Linked DNA regions of Homo sapiens. The protein of the gene in region 1 interacts with the protein of each later gene in a biochemical or structural test. Each region holds a gene or a part of one and is shown in the gene's direction. Other genes may lie near its edges. The genes, in order: IKBKG, SENP2, IRAK1 and ARPP19.

What was found.
Region 2: the proteins of IKBKG (region 1) and SENP2 form a complex in vitro, tested with the Homo sapiens proteins (2 studies listed by BioGRID and IntAct, with this or other methods).
Region 3: the proteins of IKBKG (region 1) and IRAK1 form a complex in vitro, tested with the Homo sapiens proteins (3 studies listed by BioGRID).
Region 4: the proteins of IKBKG (region 1) and ARPP19 form a complex in vitro, tested with the Homo sapiens proteins (one study listed by BioGRID and IntAct).

The regions. Positions count from the first base shown.
Region 1 is NC_000023.11:154,550,601-154,557,619, forward strand, and holds part of IKBKG (NF-kappa-B essential modulator), read left to right. Parts: intron 1-1,387; coding exon of another isoform or gene 1,388-1,402; coding exon 1,403-1,589; intron 1,590-5,564; coding exon 5,565-5,776; intron 5,777-7,019. UniProt on the Homo sapiens protein: Regulatory subunit of the IKK core complex which phosphorylates inhibitors of NF-kappa-B thus leading to the dissociation of the inhibitor/NF-kappa-B complex and ultimately the degradation of the inhibitor.
Region 2 is NC_000003.12:185,581,295-185,589,312, forward strand, and holds the start of SENP2 (sentrin-specific protease 2), read left to right. Parts: upstream 1-5,000; 5' UTR 5,001-5,119; coding exon 5,120-5,220; intron 5,221-8,018. UniProt on the Homo sapiens protein: Protease that catalyzes two essential functions in the SUMO pathway.
Region 3 is NC_000023.11:154,009,988-154,016,902, reverse strand, and holds the end of IRAK1 (interleukin-1 receptor-associated kinase 1), read left to right. Parts: intron 1-258; coding exon 259-466; intron 467-805; coding exon 806-871; intron 872-2,624; coding exon 2,625-2,861; intron 2,862-3,469; coding exon 3,470-3,860; intron 3,861-4,224; coding exon 4,225-4,374; intron 4,375-4,985; coding exon 4,986-5,044; 3' UTR 5,045-6,396; downstream 6,397-6,915.
Region 4 is NC_000015.10:52,566,026-52,573,746, reverse strand, and holds the start of ARPP19 (cAMP-regulated phosphoprotein 19), read left to right. Parts: upstream 1-4,716; 5' UTR 4,717-4,854; coding exon 4,855-4,899; intron 4,900-4,914; exon of another isoform or gene 4,915-5,458; intron 5,459-7,721. UniProt on the Homo sapiens protein: Protein phosphatase inhibitor that specifically inhibits protein phosphatase 2A (PP2A) during mitosis. Inhibition of PP2A is enhanced when ARPP19 is phosphorylated.

The DNA.
Region 1 (7,019 bases):
ATGGGAACCCAGTGAGAGTGCCTGGGCAGGAGTAGCCAGCAAGATAGGGAGGAAACCAGGAGAAGGGGCTGTTCTGAAAGCCAAGGGTGGAGTGCAGTGGCACAATCTCAGCTCACTGCAACGTCCGCCTCCTGGGTTCAAGCGATTCTCTTGCTTCGGCCTCCCGAGTAGCTGGGACTACAGGCGCGTGTCACCACACTCTGCTAATTTTTTGTATTTTTTTTTTTTGAGATGGAGTCTCGCTCTGTTGCCCAGGCTGGAGTGCAGTGGCGCGATCCCGGGTTCACGCCATTCTCCTGCCTCCCGGGTTCACGCCATTCTCCTGCCTCAGCCTCCTGGGTAGCTGGGGCTACAGGCGCCCGCTACCATGCCTGGCTAATTTTTTGTATTTTTAGTAGAGACAGGGTTTCACTGTGTTAGCCAGGATGGTCTCAATCTCCTGACCTCATGATCCACCCGTGTCGGCCTCCCAAAGTGCTGGGATTACAGGCGTGAGCCACCGTGACCGGCAATTTTTTTTTTTTTTTTTAGTAGAGGCAGGGTTTCACCGTGTTAGCCAGGCTGGTCTCGATCTCCTGACCTCATGATTGGCCCGCCTCGGCCTCCCAAAGTGCTGGGATTACAGGTGTGAGCCACTGCGCCCGGCCAGACATTTTAATCTCACAGTTCTGGAGACTAGAAGTCCAAAACCAAAGGGTTAGCAAGCACACACCCTCAAAGGCTCTAAGAGGGCAATCCTCCCTTGCCTCTCCCAAGCTTCTGCCCCATTTATTCCTGGGCTTGTGGCTGCCTCACTCCAGTCTCCGAGGCAGTCCCGACATGGCCTCCTCCCCTTGCGTCTCCCTCTGGCTTCTCTCTTCTGTCTCTCATAAAGACACGTTGTTGGATTTAGGGCCCACCCACGTCACCCAGAATGATCTCATCTTGAGATCCTACATCTGCAAAGACCCTTTTCCCGAATCACATATGTTTCAGGGGTTAGAACATGGGCATATCTTTTCGGGGGGCTACCATTCAGCCCACTACACTGGATGAGGGGCCGGTACCCTCCACTTCTCCTGCTTGGAGGTGTGTAGGGGATCAGGATTCCCAGCATACTGACATCTCCCTCCACAAACAGTCTTGTCCCGACTCTCCCATCTCTGGTGAAATTCTTCTATTTCCAGCCTGGAGCTAGGCCTTTTCAAGTCCCACATGGGTGGTCCAGCACCTCCCTTTGGAATGGGAGTATCTGCTACCCCTTAGACTGAAAACCCACTTTAGCATCCTGATACACTAGGTGAATTATCAGCATTCTGTTTAAAATGTAGCCCCAGAACTCATAGGCTTTTTCTGCTGGGTAAGGATGTGGGTCTCCTGTGACTCCCCTGCTGCCTTTCTCTTTCAGCCCTTGCCCTGTTGGATGAATAGGCACCTCTGGAAGAGCCAACTGTGTGAGATGGTGCAGCCCAGTGGTGGCCCGGCAGCAGATCAGGACGTACTGGGCGAAGAGTCTCCTCTGGGGAAGCCAGCCATGCTGCACCTGCCTTCAGAACAGGGCGCTCCTGAGACCCTCCAGCGCTGCCTGGAGGAGAATCAAGAGCTCCGAGGTGAGGAAAGAGTCAGGGGATCCAGCCCTGCTGAGGGGAAGGCGTCTTCTCCCCACCTGCACCTCTGCGTTTCCTGGGCCTGGGGTGGGGATGTGCTGCCCTCCCTCTTGGTTTCAGGAAGTAGACTCTGAGATGCAGATTAGCGGGGAGGAAGTTTAGCATGCTCTCAGGACCAGTACTGGGAAGGGAAAGGAGGGACAGGGGAAGAAGCCAGGGAGGGCAGAGGGAGAAGCACGCTGCCGGGTAGGCTCCAGGACAGCCTTGCTGGATCTTACAGGGAGCTCTGGAGCTGGAATGAACCTTCCAGGTTGGACCAACATGTCCAGGCCTCTGTGTCCCTGCACTGAGCACTCATGAAGTGCTGTCCATCCTGGGACAGGGCAGAGTCGGCGCTGGGAAGAGGCGTGGTCTGCCCAGAGAGGGGGTGGGGCCTGTCCTGGAAATGGGCGGGGCATGCCCTGGTAGAGGGGCGTGGTCTGTCTTGGGAAGGAAGGTGCGTGGCCCCCACAGGCAACATTCCTCTGGGGCAATCCCGGCGCACACCTCAGCGGAGGTGAAGGCTGACTTCCCACACCCAGTGGCTGGGACTGGGGAGTTCTTTCCTAGACTGCCATCCGGGCGCCCCTCACCCTCTTGCTGCTCAGCTCCAGGTCGTCATGGGTTCAGGGCTCAGCTGCACGCTCCTGCCCGCGCCCTGGGCGTGATGGCACCCCCAGCCCCTGCCATTCTTCCCCCTCACCCCCTCTCCCTGCCACTGCTCTGCATTGCCCTGGGTTAGCCTGGCGGGGCCAGGTGGCACCCGCCATATACTCTTGCCTTTCTGCTGCGGGGGCCTTCTAAGCCTCGGGTCCCAGAGCTGCAGGGAGGGGCGGCATAGACTCCCCACATGGCTCACTGGGTGTGGTGGGGCCTGTAGCCCTTTTTGTTTCATCCTTTGGTTCCTGCTGGGGACTCAGGCCTAAGTGTCCACCCCATCGTGGAGGACAACACCCCTTCCTTGCAGGAGTCATCCCTGAGCTGGCAGCTTCAATTGGCTCTCCGTGTCCTGGCTGGCTGGCAGCTCCTGGGCGAGGTGGCATGTGCCGTGACTACTAGAGATCGCTGTCATGGGCCCACTCCCCCGCCTTCTTTGCTGGACTGTGGTCCGAGATGTTATGTGGGGCTCTGTGCTGACAAGTCACATAGTCTGTAGGCTTCAGAGAGTGGCTCTGGCTGACACCCCGTGGGCAGAGACAAGACCCATGCCTGCGATGTGTCTCCTCTTACTGTCAAGGCAAATCACCTTTCCTTCCATGGAGGAAGGGGTCAGTGCAGTCAGCTTGCTGTCAGGGGGCTGCTTGGTCTCCTCGACGGTGAGGCTGAATTGGAGAGGCCCTGCTGGAGCATGGAGACCCAACATGACCTGCCTGTTCCAGGACAGGGTCCCCCACCTCAGTGCCATCGGCACCTGGGGCTGGAGAATTCTCTTGTACGTTGTAGGGTGTGGAGCAGAGTCCCTGGCCTGTACCTGCTAGATGCCAGTAGCACCTGTCCTGTTGTGACAACTAACAATATCCCCAGATATTTATTGCCAAATGACCCCTGGGGGATACAGTTGTCCCTGGTGAGACCCACTGTATTGGGATCTTCAAAGCACTGGTGCACAGAGAGGTGACAGTTAGACTGGGGGCTTCTGCTCATCCCCAGGAGAGTGCTCTATTGAGGGGGACTTGAGGGTGAGTGTTGCAGGCCAGCTGTGCAGGGACCCTGGCACAGCGTATGGCGCCCTTGCTTCCCTTCCAGGCTGTGTGTTCAGTGCAGCAGCTTCCCTCGGGCTCCAGGGACACAAGGAGGCCTCAAGGCTGTATTGACTCCCCCTGCTCCGCCTGACCTGAGCTTTGTGGGTGGCAGGTGAAACTTGGTAGCTCCATGTGTCAGGCCCTGGGCCAAGCCCCTAAGGGCCCAGAAGATGTCTGTCCCCCAAGATGTACATGCTTATGTCCATGGAGGAGGCTGTACTTAGAATGTTGAGGGAGAGATTCACGAAGAAGTTGCATGTCTCTAGTGTGTGACTCCACTAGTGTGAGACATGTCCAGAAGTGGCCAATCTGCAGAGGCAGATGCAGATGAGGAGGGTGCTGGGGGAGCGACTGCTTATGGGGTCCCGGAACTGTTCTGGAATTAGATAGTGCGGATGGTTGCACAACCTGATGGATACACCGAAAACTGCTGAATTAGTTAAAATAGTGAATTTGATGTCATGTGAATTTTACCTCAGTTCAGAACATTTTTTAAAAGACAAGTTGCCAGCCAGGTGCAGTGGCTCATGCCTGTAATCCGAGCACTTTGGGAGGCCCAGGCGGGGGGATCACCTGAGGTCAGGAGTTTGAGACCAGCTTGGCCAACATGGTGAAACCCCATCTCTACTACAAAAATTAGCTACAGACGTGGTGGCGGGCACCTATAATCCCAGCTACTTGGGAGGCTGAGGCAGGGAGAATTGCTTGAACCCAGGAGGTGGAGGTTGCAGTGAGCTGAGATCGCGCCACTGCACTCCAGCCTGGGCGACAGAGCGAGAGTCTGTCTCAAAAAAAAAGACAAGTTGCAGATGAGCTGAGCTTTGGGCAGAGCAAGCGGGATTCTGATGGGGGGTGGATGTTGCGCTCGTCAGCAGGCAATAGTTAGTTGGTTGAGGGTTTTGATCACGGGGTAGCTACTGCCTGCCCCATTTTATCCAGCTCTGTAGTTGCTATAGAGTTGCTAGAACCTTGGCACATCACTTATCAGTTTTGTCACCTCAGATGGCTTCTTCACTACTTGGGGTGTCTCCTGGGTGTGGGGCTCTCCTTCCTGTGGCCTCTGCTGACTGCCTGGCACTGGCACACATGCTCTGGTGAGGGGAGGACCAGCGGTTTTTCCCGTTTGTTTTCTGCTTCCTCGTTTAACCCTCCTCGTCTTGTAAGATGAATGTTCTTGTCTCTGTTCACTATGCAGATGAGGACTTTGAGGCTCAGAGACGCCACTAACTTGCCTGGTCCAAGCCTTTTGGGCCTCTCAGGCTGCAGCCAGCAATGCTGCAGTGAAGTTTGCCTGGGAGGCTGACCCTAGGAGTCTGCAGGCGTGTTAGGACCCCCGATCTAGAAGACAGCAGAGATGTAGGCCAGGGAGGACCAATACCGAGCATCTGAGGGCAGGCACACCTCAGACTGACCAGAATACAAATGAATTCGAGTCACTTACAAACAAAGTGGCATAAGGCCAGGCACAGTGGCCCATGCCTATAATCCCAGCACTTTCGGAGGCCGAGGTGGGAGGATTGCTTGAGGCCAACGATGTGAGACCAGCCTGGGCAACATAGCAAGACCTTGTCTCTACAAAAATAAAAATTCAAAAAAGTGGCATTTAACACATACTTTTTTTCTTTTTTTTGAGACAGAGTTTTGCTCTGTCCCCCAGGCTGGAGTGCAATGGTGTGATCTCGGCTCACTGCAACCTCCACCTCCCAGGTTCAAGTGCTTCTCCTGCCTTAGCCTCCCAAGTAGCTGGGATTACAGGCGTGTGCCACCACACCGGGCTAATTTTTGTATTTTTATTAGAGACGGGGTTTCACCATGTTGGCCAAGCTGGTCTGGAGCTCCTGACCTCAGGTGATCCACCCACCTTGGCCTCCCAAAGTGCTGGGATTACAGGCATGAGCCACAGTGCCTGGCCAACACGTACTTTTAAGTGAAGCTGATGTGTTTGGTGTTATTTTCTTGCAGAAAGTGAGGGGCATTAGTGTAAAGGATTTTGGAAGTGTTTAAAGAAACAAAAGGGAGTGTTGAGACGCCATCCACCCCTGAGAGAAGCTGCGTGGTATTATGGCGGGTGGGGGCACCAGGATGGGTGGCCCCACTTCTGGCCTCTGACTTCCTGAGCCTCAGGCCCATGTGGGCCCAGGCAGGGCCCGGCAGGCCGGGCTGCCCAGCTCCCCTCCACTGTCCCCTCTGCCACCAGATGCCATCCGGCAGAGCAACCAGATTCTGCGGGAGCGCTGCGAGGAGCTTCTGCATTTCCAAGCCAGCCAGAGGGAGGAGAAGGAGTTCCTCATGTGCAAGTTCCAGGAGGCCAGGAAACTGGTGGAGAGACTCGGCCTGGAGAAGCTCGATCTGAAGAGGCAGAAGGAGCAGGCTCTGCGGGAGGTGGAGCACCTGAAGAGATGCCAGCAGGTAGTCGGGGCAGGGCCAGGTTCTGAAAACCCGCGGTGACGCCAGTGTTCCACAAGGGAACCCGTGGTCGGGGTCCCCCAAAGCACCCTGGGGCTCAGTGCTGTGCCGGGAGGGCTCGGAACTCAGAAAAGCCGTCACACTCCCAGTTCCGGTTTATTACAAGGAAAGGACACAGGTTACGGTGAGCGAAGGCTCAGGGCGCACAGGGCGGGCTCCAGGAGAGACCAGGCGTGAGCTTCAGCGGCTCCTCGCCCAGGGGAGTTGTGCAGACGGCACCTGTTTCTTTCGGCAACAGTGTGGGACAGCGAGCACGGAGTCACAACCGGGAAGCTCACCCCAGCCGTGGCGGCCGGGGTTTTCACGGGGGGTGGGCCGCGTGGGCACCGAGCGCCTGCGTGGCCAACCCTGGTCACTCGGCTGTAGCCACCAGAGGTCCAGCTGTGTGGCCCAAGGCTCCCCCCATAAATCGTGTCATTAGCACAGACCGCCTGGTTTCAGGGTCTTTGTGTGTGGGCTTGGCTGATCGCAGGATCCTGGCGATGGTAGTCAGGAAGGGGCCGTGCTCCCTTTGAGGGGCAAGGTGGAGAGAAGTGCTGGAGAGGAGACTTGCTGGCGGGTACCTGGCACTTGCCACAGCCAGGCTCCACTCCCCTGGGGAAAGGCGTGGATGGTGGGCTGTGCACGCCGCTCCACTCAGGGCTTAGAGCGCCTGGCTTAAGGCGTTGATTTCCTGTGTGGGAAGTGGATGAGTTTTCTACAGCTGCCGTGACCAAGCACCACAGACTGCGGGGCCGAAGCCACAGAAACGCGTGGCCTCCCGCTTCTGGAGGCCTGGAGGCTGAGCTAGCGGTGGTGTCGGCAGGGTGGGCTCCCCGCCAGGGCCGCGAGGGAGCTGCCTTCCAGGCCTCTCCACGGCGCCGGGGGCCGCCGGCTGCACCTCTCCAGCCTCCATCTCCGTCATCCTGTGGCCTTGTCCCCGCGGGCCTCTGTGCCTGTCCTCCTCTTTTGACAAGAACACCGGAGATACACAAAGGTACACAAAAGCGGGCCTTTGTTCAAGCTGGCAAAAGAGATCTTCTTCAGAAACCCCTGCTTGCGGGGGAGAGAGCTGAGCTCCGTTCCCGCCCCAGCAGAGGCGGCCTGGCCTTGCGAAGGGAGAAGGAGGGAGTCGGGAGGGGGCGAGTGCAGGCTCAGGTGAAAGATGACGGGGCAGCCAGCGTCCTTGCCGCGAGGCCAGCCGTGT
Region 2 (8,018 bases), on another chromosome or scaffold:
GCAAGAGAAATGTTAAGCAACAGTTAGCTGTGCTGGGCACTGAATAGGCCCTTCATCTACATAAACACTTTTCTTTTTCTTTTCTTTTCTTTTCTTTTTTTTTTTTTTTTGAGAGGGAGTCTTGCTCTGATGCCCAGGCTAGAGTGCAGTGGCACGATCTCAGCTCACTGCAACCTCCGCCTCCTGGATTCAAGCGATTCTCCTGTCTCAGCCTCCAGAGTATCTGGGACTATAGGCGTGCATCACCACGCCTGGCTAATTTTTGTATTTTTTTAGTAGAGACGGAGTTTCACCATATTGGCCAGGCTGGTCTCAAACTCCTGACCTCGTGATTAGCCCGCCTCGGCGTCCCAAAGTGCTGGGATTACAGGCGTGAGCCACCGCATCCATCATCTTTTCTTTTTCTTTTTCTTTTTTCTTTTTTTTTTTTTGCGACAGTCTCCCTCTGTCGCCCAGTCTGGAGCATCGTGGTGCGATCTCGGCTCACTACAACATCGGCCTCCTGGGTACAAGCAATTCTCATGCCTCAGCCTTCTGAGTAGGCGGGATTACAGGCACCCACCACAATGCCTGGCTAAATTTTTGTGTATTTTTAGTAGAGACAGGGTTTCACTATGTTGGCCAGACTGGTCTCGAACGCCTGACCTCGTGATCCACCCGCCTCGGCCTCCCAGAGTGCTGGGATTACAGGCGTGAGCTACCGCGCCCAGCCCTCGTCTGGTACTTAAGAAAAACCTGTAATCCCAGCTATTCAGGAGGCTGAGGCAGGGGAATCGTGTGAACCCGGGAGGCGGAGGTTGCAGTGAGCCAAGATCGTGCCACTGCACTCCAGCCTGGGTGACAGAATGAGACTCCGTCTCCAAAAAAAAAAAAAAAAAAAAAAAAAGTACCAGAAGAGTTGGTACCTAGAAAGAAATTAATCTACAGAGTGGTGAATTATGTTGGATTTTAGGCACATTAGGCCTAACCCGACACAACCTCCTCTAGGGGCCCTTACCCTTTCCAACAAATGGCCTAGAATTCTTTTCTGTCCAGGGGTCAGGAAAAACAAAGTTGAGAAGAAGTTTGTTAAAGTTCTCTGAATGCTTTAAAAGGGGAAATTTGCAAGACTAAAGAATGGATTGGAGGGGAGGTAGGTTTGGAGGAAGAAGGGGGTGGGGCCCTGAAAAGGCTTCAAGGAGCTGCTCTGAGCTGAAAGGGGATAAGGATCTTCTTGGAGAACTGGGGCATCTGATTGGAACACCTGCGAAAGCTTAAGCGATGAGGTTGTGCCCCTCTTGCAGTACAAGGCTGCAAATTATCCAAGCCAAGGGCAGAAATCTCAATGTCCTTGTTACTCCATATGGCCTTGGGATTCTCCCATGGCCCTCCAGTAAAGCGCTGCTAGGTCCCGGAAAGGCTGTGGCAGTGGTGGGGTTGGGGTTAAGGATAATCCCACTCCTTGGCCAGTGGATGGACAGTCACCCATGTCTCTACTGTGGACCACAGGACAGCGAAGGCACCAACTGGCAGACAAGTCCCAGGTGGGAGCGAGTATAAGGATGCGTCTCCTTTTCTTCCTTCTAGAGGGTAACTAGGGGGATATGGAGGGAGCATGCACGGTGGGAGGCTGAGGATTGCCACATTCGATTCATGAGTTATTGTTTGCTGATGGGGTCCTGAGATTCTGACTGAGATCTGTAATTCTGAAGCCTTCTCACTCTTCCTGGCAGATGGCCAATGTTTCAGTATTGAGTTTGTAAGGGTGCTATTTATGAGGCAGGAAAAGAAAAAAAAAAATGTGTTGTTGTGTTGCACCGCAGGGCTATCAAGTGTGACCCCAATATATTTCTTTCTTTTTCTTTTTTTTTTTTTTTTTGAGACTATAAATCTCACTCTGTCACTTAGGCTGGAGTGCAGTGGTGAAATCACAACTCACTGCAGCCTTGACTCCCACCTCAGCCTCCCAAGTAGCTGGGACTACAGGCACATGCCACCACTCTTGGCCAATTAAAAAAAAATTTTTTTTAGAGACAGGTCTCCCTGTGTTGCCCAGGCTGGTCTCAAACTCCCTGGCTCAAGTGATCATTCTGCCTGGACCTCCCGAAGTGCTGGGATTACAGGTGTGAGTCACCACACCTAGCTTACCACAGTATTTCTTAAATCTCAGTGGCCAGACCTGGGATAAGTTGCTATTCAAAAGCAGCTTGTAGGTTTTTTGTTTTGTTTTGTTTTGTTTTTGAGACAGAGTCTCGCTCTGTCGCCAGGCTGGAGTGCAGTGGCGTGATCTCGGCTTACTGCAACCTCCGCCTCCCGGGTTCAAGTGATTCTCCTGCCTCAGCCTCCCAAGTAGCTGGGATTACGGGCACGCGCCACCACGCCCAGTTAATTTTTAGTAGAGATGGGGTTTCACCATGTTGGCCAGGATGGTCTCGATCTCTTGACCTCGTGATCCGCCTGCCGCGGCCTCCCAAAGTGCTGGGATTACAGGCATGAACCACCGTGCCTGGCAGAGCTTGTAGTTTTCTGATTTATGTGTGTGTGTGTTTTTTAACTTGGAAAAAAAAATTGTTCTCTTAGGATGTATGATTCGTGTTTAAATGAAGACTGCTCTTTTATTTGGGAGAATCCTCTCCCAGTACTTGAGCGGGCTTCTTGGTTTGGCAAAGGCAAAGCCCAACTCTCAATAGTGAGTGGAAGGGACAGACGTAACTGAACTGCTTTGCACAATAATGCCAATGACTGTCTTTTGTTAATAGGAGTCCTGACTCTTGATTACATTTACGGGGAGTCCAGCCTGAAATAGTCGGGGTAGAGGTAGAGGGAAAAGTCCCTTCTGTTGGCAGCTTGCCAAAGGTGTTACGAGTAAAGGGATGGCCTTGAGGTGAAGGGAATTCCTTTGCGAGACAATAGGCCAGGGACTATAGATGCTACATAATCTAATAGCCACTTCTAAGTCTTCTCAGCTTTGTAATGCCCCAAACTTTCAGCAACAGCCTGGTTGGTGTTTGCTATGCTTAGGGGAATAAGGGAGGCGGGTGTGTCCACACTTAGGATTTGCTTCCATCCTCTAGGATATGACCCCAGCCCCCGAGGCCAGAGTGGTGGTAGCTTCAGGTGTGTGGCTGGTGATTCTGAAGCTCTAGGGGGTGGCTTGCAGCACAATTCTGGAATGCTACATATATATATATATATATATATATATATATATATATATATATATACACACATACACACACACACACACACATACACACACACATGTATTTATTTTATTTATTTATTTTTTGAGACAGAGTCTTGCTCTGTTGCCTAGGCTGGAGTGCAGTGGTGCAATCTCCGCTTACTGCAACCTCCACCTCCCAGGTTCAAGCGATTCTCCTGCCTCAGCCTTCCAAGTAGCTGGGATTACAGGAGTGTACTACCATGCCTGGCTAATTTTTGTATTTTTTTTTTTAGTAGAGATGGGGTTGTCTCACCATGTTGGCCAGGCTGGTCTTGAACTCCTGTCCTCAAGTGATCCGCCTGCCTTGGCATCCCAAAATGCTGGGATTACAGGCGTGTGCCACCACACCCGGCCTGGAATGCTGTCTATTGAGGAAAGGAAGAGGCTGTACTGGGGAGTGCCAGCGTTGAAGTTCAAGCAAGTGTAAAACTCTGGCCTTAACTGAATCACAAGTAGGAAACAAGTTAATCAGGAATGGATTTGTGGGGCATGAAAACCTTTGAGGATTCTTAGGATTGTTTGGAAGAGGGGACTGGATTTTCTATCACTAAATAGGGTGGGATTTGTTTTACAGTTGATAATTTTTTGATGGGGTGCGTCAGGGTCCCACTCTGTCACCCTGGCTGGAGTGCAGTGGCGTGATCACGACTCACTGCAGTCTCAACCTCCTGGGCTCAAGTGATCGTCTCACCTCAGCCTACCAAGTAGTTGGGACTACAGGTGCGTGCCACCACACCCGGCTAATTTTTGTATTTTTTGTAAAGATGGGGTTTTACTATGTTGCACAGACTGGTCTCAAACTCCTGGGCTCAAGCTATCTGCCCACCTCAGCCTCCCAAAGTGCTGGGATTAAAGGCAGGAGCCACCGCGCCCGGCCTATAGTTGACAATTAACTAGAAGTGTGACATTGGAATTATAGAGGGAGAGTAACGAGACTCATTACTTACTAGCCCAGGGTAGGAGACATTAGTGGGCCGCAGGTTTCATCCTTAAATTTCTGTGAAGCCTTTCTTGAGGACATCTGCCCTTTCCTTCTCTCCCTCAGTGTGTGGTTTTCCTTTCTCTGGCTCCCACTGCACTCTGCACATACCTTTATCACAGCAACCACTTACGGTGTATTGTAATTTGTAATTATCTATGTACATGTCTCCAAGTAGACTGACCTCAAGGGCGAGGGACTGGCGCTGGTACTCAGACCCCGGGTTCAAGTTCCAGCCACGTCTCTAGCTAGTTTTGTGATCTTAGACAAATAACTTAATCGCTCTATGCCTCAATTTCCTTGACTTATAAAACTGGCTTAAGACTCTCTGTCACACGCCATTGCTGGGCATATTAAGGTGACAATGCGTGAAAAGTACGAGGCAAAAGGTAAGTGCAAAATAAAGGGCGCCTAAAACGGTAAACGTGTGTTAATTAACCTGATCTACCTTTACATGTGCATTCAGCAAACACTGAGCACCTAATGTCCTCTGGGACCCCGGAACGCCTCCTCCGGAGTGGAGCAGCCTCACATGTGGCCTGTGGGCCTTGTCCCACGGGCCGGCTCCGGATTGGCTCCGCCGAAGAGAAAACCCTGCCGACAGCCCTTCCGATCTCGTCAGCGATTGGGCCGGGACCGTCCCACAATTACTCTTGTTGCTGGGCTCGGAAATAGGGAGCGGTGCTAGGTTGCGCGTGCGCAGATTGAGAATGGAGCTTTCCGGTCGGGCGGGAGGAGGTGACGTCAGGAGTGGTGGCGGGCGGGGGCCTCTGGTAGCCCTGGGGACGCTGTATCTGTGGGCTCTTGAATCGCGTCACAAATCAGCGACCGAACTCTGGCGGTGGTGGTTAAGACGGCGAAGGCGGCAGCGGCGGCGACAGCTCTGGGGTTTGCGTCTCGGGGTGTGTCGGCCGCCGCTGCTGCTTGGGCCTGGTATGTACAGATGGCTGGTTAGGATTCTCGGCACCATTTTCCGTTTCTGCGACCGGTCGGTGCCCCCTGCCCGGGCCCTCCTGAAGAGGCGGCGCTCAGACAGGTGAGACGAGAGGGGGCTGAGCGCCAGCCTGGCCTTACCCCCTCCCCCACAGCGGGCTCCTCGGCCGTGATAGCTTTGATTCAGCCAGGCTCACCCGAAACAGGTCGCCGGGATCCTAGTGACGTAGTCGCTCCCGCCAGGCTGTAGGGAGGCAGCTCCTGATGAAGGAGGAGCTGGTCGTCTTCGTAGCGGCCGGTGATGGCAGGGTCTTTGACATTCTTGTCAGAGGCCAAGCTGGTTGCTGATAACAAATGGGGCTTTGCCGCTCTTAGGCTGAACACTAACATTGAAGGAATACTGTCTTTGTTGTGGCTCACTGTTTACAAAGCACCCTCGCAAGTGTCATCTGCAGACATTAAGTGCAGTTGAAGTGAGATTCATAGCTTGCCCAAAGCCGTTTTGACTGCAAGTACTGTCCTTGCAGCAAGAAACAGCACCTGTTTTGTTCCAAAACAGCTGTCAAACAGTCTGTGTGTTTGGGGCCAGAAGGGTTTTGTGCTTTAGAATTAGTGAATGAGTAAAAAGGCTTAGGTGCCTCACTCCTTTAAAACAATCACTAGTCTGTACTCTTAAATTCGGTTAAAATTTGGGGGAAACGCAAAGCTATTCTTTTCTTTTTTTCTTTTTCTTTTGGTTGAGACGGAGTCTTGCTCTGTCGCCCAGGCTGGAGTGCAGTGGTGCGATCTCGGCTTACCGCAACCTCCGCCTCCTGGGTTCAAGCGATTCCCCTGCCTCAGCCTCCCAAGTAGCTGGGATTGCAGGTGTGCACCACCACGCCTGGCTAATTTTTGTGTTTTTAGTAGAGATGGGGTTTCACTATATTGGCTAGGCTGGCCTTGAACTCCTGACCTCAAGTGATCCGCCCACCCCAGCCTTTGGAAGTGCTGGGACTGCAGGCATGAGCCACTGCACTCAGCCCCAAAAGCTATTCTTATTTAGCATCTACTCTTTGGAGTGTCCCATTTTATTGTATCGACCTCCTTACCTAAAAATCTGGAAAATAAAATACTATACAAATTCTATGCCCCCTCTTCAACTTTAGTGATCAAGTGTTAATTTTTTTTTTTTTTGAGAAGGAGTCTCGCTCTGTCCCCCAGGCTGGAGTGCAGTGGCGCAATCTCGGCTCACTGCAAGCTCTGCCTCCGGGAGTCACGCCATTCTCCTGCCTCAGCCTCCCCAGTAGCTGGGACTACAGGCGCCCGCCACCATGCCCGGCTATTTTTTTTTTTTTTTTTTTTGAGACAGAGTCTCATTTTGTTGCCCAGGCTGAAGTGCGGTGGCACGATCTCAGCTCACTGCAACCTCTGCCCACTGGGTTCAGGCGATTCTTCTGCCTCAGCCTCCGGAATAGCTGGGATTACAGGCGCCTGCCACTGCACCCGGCTTATATTTTTTGTATTTTTTTTAGTAGAGACGGGGTTTCACCATCTTGGCCAGGCTAGTCTTGAACTCCTGACCTCGTGATCCACCCGCCTCAGCCTCCCAAAGTGCTGGGATTACAGGCCTGAGCCACAGCGCCCGGCCACTACCGGCTAATTTTTTTTTTTTTTTTTTTTTTTTTGAGGCGGAGTCTCGCTCTGTCGCCCAGGCTGGAGTGCAATGGCGCGATCTCGGCTCACTGCAACCTCCGCCTTCCAGGTTCACGCCTTTCTCCTGCCTCAGCCTCCCGAGTAGCTGGGACTACAGGCGCCCGCCACCACGCCCAGCTAATTTTTTGTATTTTTAGTAGAGACGGGGTTTCACCGTGGTCTCGATCTCCTGACCTCAGGATCCGCCCGTCTCGGTCTCCCAGAGTGCTGGGATTACAGGCGTGAGCCACCGCGCCCGGCCCTCGCCCGACTAATTTTTTGTATTTTTTAGTAGAGACGGGGTTTCACCGTGTTAGCCAGGATGGTCTGGATCTCCTGACCTCGTGATCCACCCGCCTCGGCCTCCCAAAATGCTGGGACTACAGACGTGAGCCACCGGGCCCGGCCGTTAATTTCATTTTTTAAATTAAGCCTCAATATCAAGAAAAGTGGAAGAAGTGTTCATTTGTGGGAGCTTGAGAGAACAAGATGTCTAATACATTAGTCTGAGAATGCAGGTTATTGATGAGATTGGTTGTTGGCTAAATTGCATCGTGTGTTCCAGAGATACATGGTTTTGCCTTATTTTTCTCTCCTATCTTTCCGTTGGGTTGATATAAGGATCATTTGAGAACGTGGTGTAAAGTGCCTAAACTGATGCTTAATGTATATAAGGGTAGTATTTGTCTGTCCTACTCTGGGGCCTTTTGCAGAGTCTGGTGCATGATAAGCACTTGGTCCCTATTTATGGAATAAGGGAAAGCTAATTTCCTCTCCCTTGTCCTCTCCTTGATGTGAATCCCTGCTAGTCAGTGGAACATGGTTTGGCGATCAAAACCTTGATCTTTACTATACTTTAGGTGTTCACATCCTTAATCCAAAACAACACTTCTCAGTGTAAACCAATTTTCAGTCAAAATGAAGCCCGGCAGGGCTTGTTGGAATGTATAAAGTTATGAGCTGAATGGAATCCTGGGATCTCATTCTATTCATTTTTTTTTTTTGCATGTGTGAATATAATTGATCATAAGGGTTCAGAGAGATGATGAGTAATATACTATGACCCTTTAGCATTCTTGACATCTGGGTCCTGAAACTTTCCTCAATTCCAAAGTTCTTTATTACCATCATAATGTAGTTTGCGTGATAAAAATGAAGTTAAATATAACACTTGATTAAGATTTGTCTTTTTTAAGTTGTAGAACAGTTTTTTTTAACTCCCTTACACAC
Region 3 (6,915 bases), 540 kb from region 1:
GGGGGCCCCGCGTCCTATCAATGTGGGGATCAGGCATGGCCTGGGACCTCAACACCCCGGCATCGCACAGGTGTGGGAACGGGCCAAGGATGGGCCCTACTGATGAGCAGAGGCCCCCAGGCAGCTGGAGCGCTCAGGGCAGTGCCAGCGCTTTCTGTGGGCAAGGCACCGGGCTGGCAGCCTCGAGTCCAGCCTTATCTAAGCCGGGCAGGTGTAGGAGCTAGGACCGGGCTGACGCCACTGTCTTCTCTCCCCAAGTTCCAACGTCCTTCTGGATGAGAGGCTGACACCCAAGCTGGGAGACTTTGGCCTGGCCCGGTTCAGCCGCTTTGCCGGGTCCAGCCCCAGCCAGAGCAGCATGGTGGCCCGGACACAGACAGTGCGGGGCACCCTGGCCTACCTGCCCGAGGAGTACATCAAGACGGGAAGGCTGGCTGTGGACACGGACACCTTCAGCTTTGGGGTGGTGAGCCACTGACCCCTCTGCTGGCTCAGAGGAGGAGAAGCCACAGGCAGGCAGAGGTGGGGGCTGCAGAGTGCACTGCGGGCCAGGGGCCATCTGCCAAGACCCCAGGAGGCTGCAGCTCCAGGGTCCCCCTCCCTCCGAGGCCCTCCTCCTCACCCTGCACCTAACTGTGTGTTTGTAATTTGTCTTCAAGTGGGCTCTCCGAGTTGCCCGAGCTTCAGTCCCATAACATCTGGCTCTGCCTTTGTCCACACCCTTGTCAGGCCCAATCCATGTCCACACCAGAGGCCTCTTCCCTGCCAAGGCCACTGCCATGCTCTCCCTCTTCCCTCTCTCCAGGTAGTGCTAGAGACCTTGGCTGGTCAGAGGGCTGTGAAGACGCACGGTGCCAGGACCAAGTATCTGGTGAGCCCCTTGAGGCAGGGCCAGGAGGGACACACAGCTGCTGGCAGCCAGCAGGCACAGCCCCAGTGGCGGGGATAACTGGGGCGCAGTGCCCATGGATGCCTCTGCTGCCACAGTGGCCTCATTTTTGAAAGTAGGCAGGGCTCCAAACAACTTCGTTTACCTTGCCGAGGACAAACCTGTCTGTCCTGCAGACACTATGGGCCTTGTACAGACCCCACCTGGGCTGGGGGCAGGGGGAAGGGCGGTCCCAGGGCACTGAGACCCAAGCTGCAGTGGAACTCAGAGGACTCTGGCCGGAGAAAGGCGGTGGTAGAGAAGAAGCAGGCCCCGAGGAACCTCCTGGGCCCCAGCAGGCTGCAGCTGAGCTCTCCGCACCGTGCAGGGCAGCCTGAGCTGCCTCACGGTCTTACTCCACTCAGTCTGCCTCACCGTGGACTGTGGTGGGGCCAGGAGACTAGAGACCTGGGTTTTAGCCCCAGCCTGACAGTGGCCTTCCAGCAAATTCCTGCTCCCCTGTGGGCCTGTTTTCCCATATGCAAAACAGACTTCACAGAATGTGCTCAGCCAGTAATTGCTTCACTGCTTCTCCTCTTGTTTGGGGCGGTTCCTGTGTGCTGTGGGGTCTCCGTCAGGATTCAGCCCCGCTGAGAACCCAGGAGCCGGGCTTGAGCCCTCCTTCCTTTCCCTTCCCCGTCCGTCCATCCATGCATCCTGCTGAAGAAGCGCACCAGGCTCCTTGGGGGTCCTTGGACTTCCCCACTTGCTCCCCACCCTGCAGCCAAAGTGCTCTTTTCAAAGGCCCCTTTGCCTTTTCTCTGCTCTTGGGGTGAAGGCCCAGTCCCTTATGTGGTTGACCCCCCAACGCCCCAGGTCCCTGGGACTCGGGGCGCTCCCTGCTGCCTGCTTCACAGCCTTAGTATGTGCCGTTCGCTCTGCGAGAAAAGCCACCGCCCACCCAGGTGGTTCCTCCTGGTCTGTCTGATTTCAGAACTGGAGATGGCCTCCGGTCCTGTTTCCACCCTGGGGGCGCCTCTCTGCGGGGCGCCTCTCTCTCTGGGGTACCTCTTTGTCTGTGGGGCACCTCTCTGTGGGGCGCTTTCCTTCTCGGCTCTGCCCTCTCAGGCTACTTCCTGCCTTCAGACCCCAGCTCCATGGGGCTCTCCCCCACCAGGAAGTCAGCTCTGTCAAACCGGGTCCCAGGGTTCTGTTTGTTCCTGTATCCCTAGGGCCCAGAGCACCACTGGCCCACAGTAGGTGTTTAATAAATCTCTAGAAGCTACTCGGGAATCTGAGGCAGGAGGATCGCTTGAGCCTGGGAGTTGGAGACCAGCCTGGGCAACATAGCAAGATAGGCATGGTGGTACACACCTGTAATCCCAGCTGCTCGGGAGGCCGAGGTGGGAGGATCACGAGCCTGGGAGGTTGAGGCTGCACTGAGCCATGATTGCACCACTGCACTCCAGCCTGGGTGACAGAATGAGTCCCTGTCTCAGAAAAAAAGTAAGTTGTAGAAAGACCAAGAGCTGTGGCACAGTGTCTCACACCTGTAACACCAGCACTTTGGGAGGCTGAGGCGGGAGGATCACTTGAGCCTACTTGGAGACCAGCCAGGCCAACAAAGCGAGACCCCATCTCTTTTTTTTTTTTTTTTTTTTTTATCAAAACCCATACGATTGAGTGACAAGGACCTGAGGACTGCAGCTGCAGGTGTGGCCACCTGGTAGCCATACTGACAGTATTTATCCCACAGAAAGACCTGGTGGAAGAGGAGGCTGAGGAGGCTGGAGTGGCTTTGAGAAGCACCCAGAGCACACTGCAAGCAGGTCTGGCTGCAGATGCCTGGGCTGCTCCCATCGCCATGCAGATCTACAAGAAGCACCTGGACCCCAGGCCCGGGCCCTGCCCACCTGAGCTGGGCCTGGGCCTGGGCCAGCTGGCCTGCTGCTGCCTGCACCGCCGGGCCAAAAGGAGGCCTCCTATGACCCAGGTAGCCAGCTGCGCACTGGGACGGGGTGGCCAGATAGAAAGCCCGCATTCCAGGCCTTGCTCTGTAGTGACCCCATCTCAGCACCTGCTAGGTCTCTCTGGAGTCTCCACACATTTCTTGCTTGCCCTTTGGTTCTGTTTGGGGCAGCGCCCCTCTGAACTGAGGGGCCCCGGGCAGTCCTGCTTTGCGGAGCCCAGCTCCGACCCCCTTCACATAGAGAGAAGGAAAGAGCTGCTGCCGCGCCCCCTGCTGGGCGCACTGCACTACTGCATCTGCCTTTTTCTGTCCCCTCCCTAGTACCCCACCTCTTCTCCTCTGGTGACAGTTGAAAATGGAGAGGCCCCGTTTGAGGGCAGCGGGGCAGTGAGATTCATTTTGTAGAAAAGAACGAGGCCATTCTCAGTCCTTGCTTTTGGCAGCCGCGCTTCTCAGCACTCCCTGTGATGGGAACAGAGGGGCGAGGGGCAGAGCGTTCCCAGCTGCAGGGTATGTCATTTTAGAGCCCTGGGGCAGGTCACGGACGGCCTGGAGCAGCCCTGTGGTTTGCCCACGGGGTGACCGGCCAGGGCTGCCATCTCACCCTGAGAGTCCCTCTTTTCCACTTGCAGGTGTACGAGAGGCTAGAGAAGCTGCAGGCAGTGGTGGCGGGGGTGCCCGGGCATTCGGAGGCCGCCAGCTGCATCCCCCCTTCCCCGCAGGAGAACTCCTACGTGTCCAGCACTGGCAGAGCCCACAGTGGGGCTGCTCCATGGCAGCCCCTGGCAGCGCCATCAGGAGCCAGTGCCCAGGCAGCAGAGCAGCTGCAGAGAGGCCCCAACCAGCCCGTGGAGAGTGACGAGAGCCTAGGCGGCCTCTCTGCTGCCCTGCGCTCCTGGCACTTGACTCCAAGCTGCCCTCTGGACCCAGCACCCCTCAGGGAGGCCGGCTGTCCTCAGGGGGACACGGCAGGAGAATCGAGCTGGGGGAGTGGCCCAGGATCCCGGCCCACAGCCGTGGAAGGTAGCTGGGGAGACGGGTTCCCAGGAGAGGGACCAAGGCCTCTTTGGGCCAAAGCCCCTGTAAGTCCCCACCCCAGCCTTCTAGAAGAGAACCAGGGCCAAATGTTCAGCTCACTGTGACCTTAGCAACCCTGGTTTCCCCTCCCCAGGCCACATCCTTCCCAGGTGGAGCTTGCTCTCCAGCCCTCCCCCCACCCCATTCCTGAAGGCTGGGAACAAGGAGGGCTCTGTCTGGTAGCCTGAGAGCTGGGCCCTGCCCTTGGACTTCTCTGAGGAATTCAGGCCTGAGGCCAGGGAGGCAGGGTGCTAGGCTGCGGGCTGGGGAGCCACAGCATGAGGCTAAGGGAGTGCCATCTCCACCCCAGGACTGGCCCTTGGCAGCTCTGCATCATCGTCGTCAGAGCCACCGCAGATTATCATCAACCCTGCCCGACAGAAGATGGTCCAGAAGCTGGCCCTGTACGAGGATGGGGCCCTGGACAGCCTGCAGCTGCTGTCGTCCAGCTCCCTCCCAGGTGCTGCCGCCCAGGCTGGCCTCTGGGGTGCTCAGGCGCATCCGTGTCAGCCCCAAAGAGCAGAGTGTCTGTCCCGACTGCGCTGAGGGCGTGGGGCAGCCGGGCAGGCCACTGGCTCTGGCGACCTCTAGAAGCCCAGCCGGCCCCACATGCCTCCCTTAGCAAGACCCTGGCCCACTCCTTCCCTCGCCTCCTGACAGTAGCACCTCCTTTAGCCCGAGGGTGCCTGCCCCACTCTGTGCTTTCAGGAAATAGGAAGCCCCAGCAGGAATTTTCCATCCCAGGTACTATTTGAAGAACCACTGCTTAGGAACCCTCAGCTGGGCGAGGTGGCTCATGCCTATAATACCAGCACTTTTGGAGGCCAAGATGGGAGGATCACTTGAGCCCAGGAGGTGGAGGCTACAGTGAGCTGTGATCAAGCCACTGCACTCCAGCCTGGGAGACAGTTAGACCCTGTCTCAAAAACAAATGAACAAACAAACAAAAACCCTCAATTCCCACGAACGCCCCAGGAGATAAGGGAGCATGGCCCAGGCCTTGAGCCAGGGCTTCTGGCAGTAGGGGAGCCTCCCCCATTTGCTAAGCGGACTTTCCTCTTCCTTCTGTAGGCTTGGGCCTGGAACAGGACAGGCAGGGGCCCGAAGAAAGTGATGAATTTCAGAGCTGATGTGTTCACCTGGGCAGATCCCCCAAATCCGGAAGTCAAAGTTCTCATGGTCAGAAGTTCTCATGGTGCACGAGTCCTCAGCACTCTGCCGGCAGTGGGGGTGGGGGCCCATGCCCGCGGGGGAGAGAAGGAGGTGGCCCTGCTGTTCTAGGCTCTGTGGGCATAGGCAGGCAGAGTGGAACCCTGCCTCCATGCCAGCATCTGGGGGCAAGGAAGGCTGGCATCATCCAGTGAGGAGGCTGGCGCATGTTGGGAGGCTGCTGGCTGCACAGACCCGTGAGGGGAGGAGAGGGGCTGCTGTGCAGGGGTGTGGAGTAGGGAGCTGGCTCCCCTGAGAGCCATGCAGGGCGTCTGCAGCCCAGGCCTCTGGCAGCAGCTCTTTGCCCATCTCTTTGGACAGTGGCCACCCTGCACAATGGGGCCGACGAGGCCTAGGGCCCTCCTACCTGCTTACAATTTGGAAAAGTGTGGCCGGGTGCGGTGGCTCACGCCTGTAATCCCAGCACTTTGGGAGGCCAAGGCAGGAGGATCGCTGGAGCCCAGTAGGTCAAGACCAGCCAGGGCAACATGATGAGACCCTGTCTCTGCCAAAAAATTTTTTAAACTATTAGCCTGGCGTGGTAGCGCACGCCTGTGGTCCCAGCTGCTGGGGAGGCTGAAGTAGGAGGATCATTTATGCTTGGGAGGTCGAGGCTGCAGTGAGTCATGATTGTATGACTGCACTCCAGCCTGGGTGACAGAGCAAGACCCTGTTTCAAAAAGAAAAACCCTGGGAAAAGTGAAGTATGGCTGTAAGTCTCATGGTTCAGTCCTAGCAAGAAGCGAGAATTCTGAGATCCTCCAGAAAGTCGAGCAGCACCCACCTCCAACCTCGGGCCAGTGTCTTCAGGCTTTACTGGGGACCTGCGAGCTGGCCTAATGTGGTGGCCTGCAAGCCAGGCCATCCCTGGGCGCCACAGACGAGCTCCGAGCCAGGTCAGGCTTCGGAGGCCACAAGCTCAGCCTCAGGCCCAGGCACTGATTGTGGCAGAGGGGCCACTACCCAAGGTCTAGCTAGGCCCAAGACCTAGTTACCCAGACAGTGAGAAGCCCCTGGAAGGCAGAAAAGTTGGGAGCATGGCAGACAGGGAAGGGAAACATTTTCAGGGAAAAGACATGTATCACATGTCTTCAGAAGCAAGTCAGGTTTCATGTAACCGAGTGTCCTCTTGCGTGTCCAAAAGTAGCCCAGGGCTGTAGCACAGGCTTCACAGTGATTTTGTGTTCAGCCGTGAGTCACACTACATGCCCCCGTGAAGCTGGGCATTGGTGACGTCCAGGTTGTCCTTGAGTAATAAAAACGTATGTTGCAATCTCGGGCTCTACTTGTGGACTTTGTTGCACCGAAAGCCTTGAGCTTTCCTGATGCCTTACACTTCAGGGTTCTTGAGCGTCCAGGGTCTTGTTACTACTCTGGGCTGGCCACACCCAGCACTTCCCGTGTCAGGTTTTTCCTGATGTAGTCCATGTTTTTTATGCTATTCTAAATGGTATCTTTGATTTTCTAGTTCATCATGATATTATACAGAAATGCAATTGATGCTGGGCACGGTGGCTCACGCCTGTGATTCCAGCGCTTTGGGAAGCTAAGGCGGGCAGATCACTTGAGGCCAGGAGTTTGAGACCAGCCTGGGCAACATGGCGAAACCCCGTCTCTACAAAAAGTACAAAAATTAGCCAGGCATGGTGGTGCATGCCTGTAGTTTGAGCTACTCAGGAGGCTGACCCAGGAGGATAGTTTGAGCCCAGGACGTTGAGGCTGCAGTGAGCCATGATTCCACCACTGCACTCCAGCCCGGGCAACAGAGGGAGACCTTGCCTCAAAAAAAAAA
Region 4 (7,721 bases), on another chromosome or scaffold:
CTCTACTAAAAATAAAAAAATTAGCCAGCTGTGGTGGTGTGTGCCTGTAAATCCCAGCTACCCAACAGGCTGAGGCAGGAGAATCGCTGGAACCCGAGAGGCAGAGGCTGCAGTGAGCTGAGATTGCACCCACTGCACTCTAGCCTGGGCAACAGAGCAAGACTCCAACTCAAAAAAAAAAAAAGACTTGAAAGTTGAAATTATTCCTTGATCTATGGACTACAAGATGGATGTTGCGTTAGAAAGCATGAAAACAACATTAATCTCCTTGTACACCTCCATCAGGGCTCTTAGGAGACCAAGTGCATTGTCAATGAGCTACAATATTTTGAAAGGATTTTTTTTTTCTGAGCAGTAGGTCTCAATAGTGAGCTTAAAATATTAACTAAACCATGTTGTAAACAGATGTGCTGTCATCCAGGCTTTGTAGTTCCATTTGCAGAGTACAGGTAGAGCAGATTTAGAACCCTAGGATTTTCAGAATAGTAAATGAGCATTGGCTTCAGCTTAAAGACACCAGCCACAATAGCCCCTAAGAAGAGAGTCAGCCTGTCTTTTGAAGCTTCGAAGCCGGGCATTGACTTCCTCTAGTATGAAACTCCTGGATGACATTTTCCAACAGAAGGTCGTTTTGTCCACATTGAAAATCTGTTGCTCATTGTAGCCCCCTTAGTCAATTAGCTTAGCTAGATCTTCTGGATAACTTGCTGCAGCTTCTCCATCAGCACTTTCTACTTTGCCTTATACTTTTATGTTATGAAGATGGCTTCTTTCTTTAAACTTCATGAACTCACCTCTGCTAGCTTCAAACTTTTCTTCTTTAGCTTCCTCACCTCTCTGAGACTTCACAGAATTGAAGACAGCTAAGCCCTTGTTCTGGATTAGGCTTTGGCTTAAAGGAGTGTTGTGGCTGGTTTGCTCTCCTATACAGATCACTAAAACTTGGACCATATCAGCGATAAGACTGTCTCGTTTTCATATCATTCATGTGTTCACAGGAGTAGCACTTTTAATTTCCTTCAATAACTTTCCTTTGCATTCATAACTTGGCTAACTCTTCGTCACAAAAGGCCTAGTTTTTGGCTGTCTCAGCTTTTGACATGCCTTCCTCACGAAGCTTAATCATTTCCAGCTTTTTAAAAATGTTTAATCTATTTATTTGTTTATTTAGAGACCGGGTTATGAGACTGGCTAATTTTTGTATTTTTGGTAGAGACGAAGTTTACCATATTGCCAAGGCTGGTTTCAAACTCCTGGGCTCAAGCAATCCACCAGCCCCAGCCTCTCAAAATGCTGGGATTACAGGCATGAGCCACCGCACCTGGCCATTTCTAGCTTTTGATTTAAAGGAAGAGATATGCAACTCTTCCTTTCACTTGAACACTTAGAGGCCATTGTAGGGTTATAATTTGGCCTAATTTCAATATCGTTGTGTCTCAGGGTATAGGGAAGCCCAAGGAGAGAGAGACAGGGGAATGCTGGTTGGTACAGCAGTCAGAGCATACACATTTATTGGTTAAGTTCACTGTCTTATGTGGGAGTGGTTTGTGGTACTCCCCCAAAATTACAATAGTAATGTCAAAGATAACTGATTACAGATCACTATAATAGATATAATAATAATGAAAACGTTTGAAATATTGCAAGAATTACCCAAATGTTACACACGATCACAAAGTAAGCACATGGTGTTGGAGAAATGGCGCCTATAGAGGCTGGATGCAGGATTGCCACAAACCTTCAATTTGTGAAAAATGCAGTATCTAGAAGTACAATAAAATGAAGCCCCAAAAAACAAGGTATCCCTAGATGGCAGTTTAGACTATGAATGTCCACCGGGCGCAGTGGCTCAAGTCTGTAATCCTAGCACTTTGGGAGGCCGAGGCAGGCCGAGCACTTGAGGCCAGGAGTTTGAGACCAGCCTGGCCAACATAGCAACACCCCGTCTTTACAAATTATTATTATTATTATTTGAAACAGTTTTGCTCTTGTTGCCCAGGCTGGAGTGCAGTGATATGATCTCAGCTCACTACAACCTCCATCTCCTAGGTTTGAGCAATTCTCCTGCCTCAGCCTCCCAAGTAGCTGGGATTACAGGTGCCCACCACCATGCCCAGCTGATTTTTGTATTTTTAGTAGAGATGGTTTTACCACGTTGGCCAGGCTGGTCTCGAACTCCTGACCTCAAGTGATCCACCCGCCTCGGCCTCCCAAAGTGCTGGGATTACAGGTGTGAGCCACCGTGCCAGGCCTACAATTATTAAAAATACAAAAATTAGCCGGGCATGGTGGCATGTGCCTGTGGTCCCAGCTACTTGGGAAGCTGAGGCAGGAGAATCACTTGAACCTAGAAGGCAGATTGCAGTGAGCTGAGATGGTGCCACTGCACCCCAGCCTGGGTGGCAGAGTGACACTTTGTTTCAAAAAAGAAAAAAAACTATGAAGGTGGAAGTTATTTCCTGGAGGCTGTGTAAACATAGAAGAGAAGGAGATCCAAGGACAGAACTGTTAGAATCCTCCCATTAAGAGGCAGGTTAAGATTCAACAGGGAGGTTAAGTAGGAGGAAATCCATGAGACAATAGTATCCTGGAGATCAAGAGAAGGAAGTTTTGACAAACAGGGTGCTGGGGACCAGTGTGCAGTTTTACACATTAAGGTTCATAATGATGCAGAGTGGTGTTAGTTGGGAAAGAATGGCTTTCCAGACAGGTCCTCATTGTGGAGCATTGCCCATGGTGAATTCTCCATTTGACCAAAGTCTGCCCCCAGAAATTCAAACTTCCCCTTCTGCGAGTGTCACTATCAGAAACAGATTCTTTTTATCCAAGGTCACATAGCCAATTTTAAAAAAAAGGCCAGATGTGGTGGCTCGCTCCTATAATCCCAGCACTTTGGGAGGCCGAGGCGGGTGGATCACTTGAGGCCGGGAGTTCGAGACCAGCCTGGACAACACGGCAAAACCCTGTCTCTACTAAAAATACAAAAAATTATCAGGGTGTGGTGGTGGGCAACTGTAATCCCAGCTACTTGGGAGGCAGAGGCAGGAGAATTGCTTGAACCCAGGAAGTGGAGGTTGCAGTGAGCCGAGATTGTGCCATTGCACTCCAGCCTGGGTGACAGAGTTGAGACTCTGTCTCAAAAAGAAAAAGAAAAAAAAGTTTTTTTTCTTTTTGTAGAGACAGAGATTTGCCATGTTGGCCAGGCTGGTCTTGAACTCCTGAGCTCGAGCGATTTGCCCGCCTTGGCCTCCCAAAGTGCTGGGATTACGAGTGAGCCACTGTGCCCAGCCACAGCCAATTTTCTTGAGGCTGAGTTTCATCATTAAGTGTATGTCTATCAGATTTTAACTCAAGTTCACAAATACATTGATATAGGACATATACTAGAACGTCAGTCAATTTATTAATAAAAATACAACTGTTAAATGCTTCAGTGGCCTAACTACTGCACTCTTCTTTCTCTCTGCAGTTCTGCTTAAGGGAAAGGCAAATTTTCAGTATGTTACTTTGTGAGTATAGAAGGAGAACAAATATGTCGTGGATCTTACAGTTTCTCAGCTAGCCCAGCGTGAGACATTCTTAAGGGATATCTTTGTCAAACAGTTGGCCTGTTGAACCCTTTTATTTTCAATACTTCCTTGGCTGACAAATGCCTTCCTTCGTTTCTCCAAAAGGAGTGCAATATTAACTCTTTTTGTTTTTCTAGTTGCAATTCCAGTGCAATTCTTCCTGTCTGAGATTCTACATCCTGGTTGAGTTTCGATGGTTTCCAAATTCCTTATCCAGGCATTTAGGGTCTTTCAATTGTTCCCCTGCCCCCAGAAATGCATTCATTTTCTGTGGCTTTTTACTAGTTTAACTTTTAGAGGGCAATCTTATTTCCAAGTTTCTGAGGGACACTTTGTTGGAACCAACAAACATTGCGAGTAACTATTCAGATATCAAGTAGAATGAGGATTCAGTAAGAAGCCGCAGGACTTGGCAAATAAAAAGGTCATTGGGGGAGCTCAATGCTAGCAGTTTCGGTAAGCTTGTGGGAGTGGACCCCCTGGGAGTGGACAAATGAATCTGAATTCCTTCGTTAGATATCTAGGAAGTGCTGGACCCTCAGAGTAAAATATAAGTAATTACAGACGAGATCCCTGCCCTGGTGCGGCTTATCTGAGAAGGAAAGGTGACCTAAAGTCACGACAATTGTGTAATGATACAGTTCATGTTGTTGAGGAACTGTACAGGGCTGTGACAGCCTTTAAGAGGTGGCTCTGGCCTAGTGTAGAGGTTTAGGAAGGAAAGGTTCTGAGGCAGAGACGTAGGACTGGAGATGTGAAGGCGTGGCAGAGTGGAGCAAGACTTTTGGCGTGCCCAAAAGACAGCCTGTGTGGCTACAGAGCGGAGAGCGAGGAGAACAGAACTAGGCGAGGATGGGTAAGTGGAAAGAGTAAAATAAAGCTCCTAGAACGAGGGGACCAGAGTGGACAGGAAAGGGCGGGGAGGGGCGGTTCCACTTAGAAACTACAATTCCCAGGAAGCACTCGGCAGCCACAAACGGATGTGAGGTGAGGCAGGAGCGGCGACCTTTGAAGGAAAAAAGGAAGTGTTTGGACGACAGCGAGCGGGAGAAGCGGGGTCAAGTAGGTAGGGGTGCGGTGCGGGAGGGGCAGGCGGGCTCCGGCGTGCGAGGGCCTTGGCCAGCGGAGCGTTTCGCGGCTCCGTGTCGTCATAAGGCGGCGGCCATTTTCGCGGGCGGAGGCGGCCCGGCGGGCCCTGGGAGAGCTGGGACGGGCGGCGGCCGGGTGGCCTCGGCCACCCGCTAATTGCATCTTTTCCCGGCGTCTCGTCTGCAGAGGGAGCACTATGTCTGCGGAAGTCCCCGAGGCAGCCTCCGCGGAGGAGCAGAAGGTGAGCGCGCGGGGCGTGAGCCCTGGGCCCTGCCCAAGGCCGGGTCTGGCGGGCGGCCTGCTCCCGCCAGGCGGAGGGCCGCGCCCGAGATGCGGGGCCGAGGCGCATGAGGCCGAGGCTCCTGCGCCCCACCTTTGGCTTCCCGCCGTCGCTGGCTGGTGCGCCGACGAATTGGGAGTTCCAACGTGCCCCGCGTTTACTCCGAATCGTGCCTTTTGTAACACCTCCGTGGGTCGCGGTGTTCCTCAGTCACTTATATTTACGCGAGAGCCCAGGACGCAGGCTTTGGGCGTAGAGCCTAAGTTTTTCTGTAAGCCTCAATTTGGTTAGGAAGTTTTATTTTTTCCTTTGAAGAACTCTCCAACTACTTGTATTGTGAGCGTGCGGTTCACTCCAAAAGCAGTGCCTCGTGTGCGGGCCGCGATGTGGGCCAGGATTGGCATTTCAGGGCCAACCCTTGTAACCATGGTCAGTGAGTAAAGTCCGGCCTTCAGTGTCTTCACCTGTAAAGGCCGAATACTGGTGCTTGCCTCCCACGGCGGGGTGAGGCCTAGAGGAGGTGAGTCAGGTGTAGTGTGCAGCGCAGTCTGTGCTCAAAAAGGTTTCAGTCGATGGGACTCAAATATGGTACTTGACTAAAAATCGAAAGGGTGGAATTTTAAAATTTTACTCACGAAATTAATCAGGGTTTTATTGGAAACAGGAATATTTTGTAAACGCCCTTGTGTCTTCCTGATGTAGGGGAATAGGCCGGGAGTGTCACTGTGGTTCAAATTATGAATATCAAGCCTTTGTATTTATCTAGGCTGGTGTTTGTCTCTCCCACTGTAATTATTTCCACCGCCCTGCCCTCCTAGGCAGGTGTGACTGGCCGAGAAGTGAGAAAGGGCCGAGGTATCTTGTCTCCTAAATTGTTTATCAACAATTTTTCTTACAAATCAGGTTGTGTTGCCGTTAAATACGATTTTGGTCTACTGCTTGACCTTCGTGCGGGTTTCTGCTTAATGTTGCACTTATGTCCTAATTAAGTTGGGAATTGGATTAGTGTTCTAAGCCCATTCCATATGTTCTTAAAACCGTGTTAACTTTTCTTAAGTTGGGTGCTTCTGTTAGGATGTTAAAGTAATTGAAAAACAAGAAAACATATAGCATAGGTAAAAGTCCAAGTTACCACATTATTTGAGAATATCCCGTGAAAATAGATATATTTACGCATTACCAAAAAAATGGATTTTGGGGGCAAAAATACAAATATTAAAGTTTGCAATCTTAACAGTATTATTAAGTATCACCTGCTTATTGTAAAATGCGTATTGTGTTCATTATTGCTTGAAATTTAGGAGCCCCCAAAAATAACAAGTCCCTGTCTGTGGTGGTTTGCCTTAAACACTTACATCAAACTTAGCATTAACTTCTGGTGCACAGTAGTGTGCTATGTAATTTTCTTTGATAAGTTCTGTTAGTATGTTGCCAAAGTATGCAGTATTGACTTCTAGAGTGTAAATACTTTTACTTGGAAAAGCCTAATGTATCTTTTAACAATATTAAGGATAGCTTGAACGTTTTCTCTTATTGATTGTCTACATTAAACATTTAAGGTGCTTTGGTTTTAGCTGCTGTCATTAAAATCAACCAAAGTGTGTTAGGAATATAATGTTCCTTCTTAAATTGAGGATTGGCTGTAAATGCTAAGTGCCTGTGGCGTGGATGGTGTCCCTAACCATGAAGAAAATGTGCACAGTCACTTCTGTGTTCCTGTGGGCCAAATCACCTGTTTCTTCTATTTGGAAGATCAGTTCGATGACCTAAAAAATTAAGTTATTGTCTGTGTACCCAATTGACCTTCCACTTAAAGCCAAAGTATTCAGCTAAAAATACCTTTATAGTTTACTGGTAGGTTGCCTGTTGCCGCTAAAGAATTAAGGTAGATAGCTGGGCCTTGCATGGAGTAAAAGCTAAGTCACTTTCTCTATCTTGAGTGGTGTGTGCACCCTTGGTAAGAGAAGAAAACCAGATAGATTCCTGTCTTGTATTAGGAAACAATATGTACAAACATAAAAAATAAGTATAAACTCTTATCTCTTAACTTGTATACCACTCTAAGACTAAAACAGCCAGGCGTGGTGGCTCTTGCCTATAATTCTGGCACTTTGGGAGGCTGAGGCAGGAGGATTGCTTGAGGCCAGGAGTTTGAGACCAGCCTGGTCAACATAGTAAGATTCTGTCTCTACAAAATAAAATAAAATAAAATAAAAATTAGCCAGGTGTGGTGGCATGTCTGTAGGCCTGTAGTCCCAGCTACTTGGGAGGCTGAGGTGGGAGGATCACTTGAGACCAGGAGTTCGAGGCTACAGTGAGCTACTTTTAAAATATTTTTTAAAAATTTAAAAGGCCTGTGCTGTGGCTCACAGCTGTAATCCCAGCACTTTGGGAGGTCATGGCGAGTGGATCACTTGAAGCCAGGAGTTGAAGACCAGCCTGGCCAACACGGTGAAACCCTGTCTTTACTAAAAGTACAAAAACTAGCCAGGCATGGTGGCCCACACCTATAATCCCAGCTACTCGGGAGACTGAGGCATAAGAATTGCTTGAACCCAGGAGGCAGAGGTTGCAGTGAGCTGAGATCATACCACTGTACTCCTGCCTGGGCAACAGAACAAGATTCTGTGTCAGAAAATAAATAAAATAAAATTTGGCCGGGCACGGTGGCTCACACCTGTAATCCCAGCGCTTTGGGAGGCCGAGGCTGGCGGATCATGAGGTCAGGAGTTCGATACCAGCCTGGCCAATATGGGGAAACCCCCTCTCTACTAAAAAATACA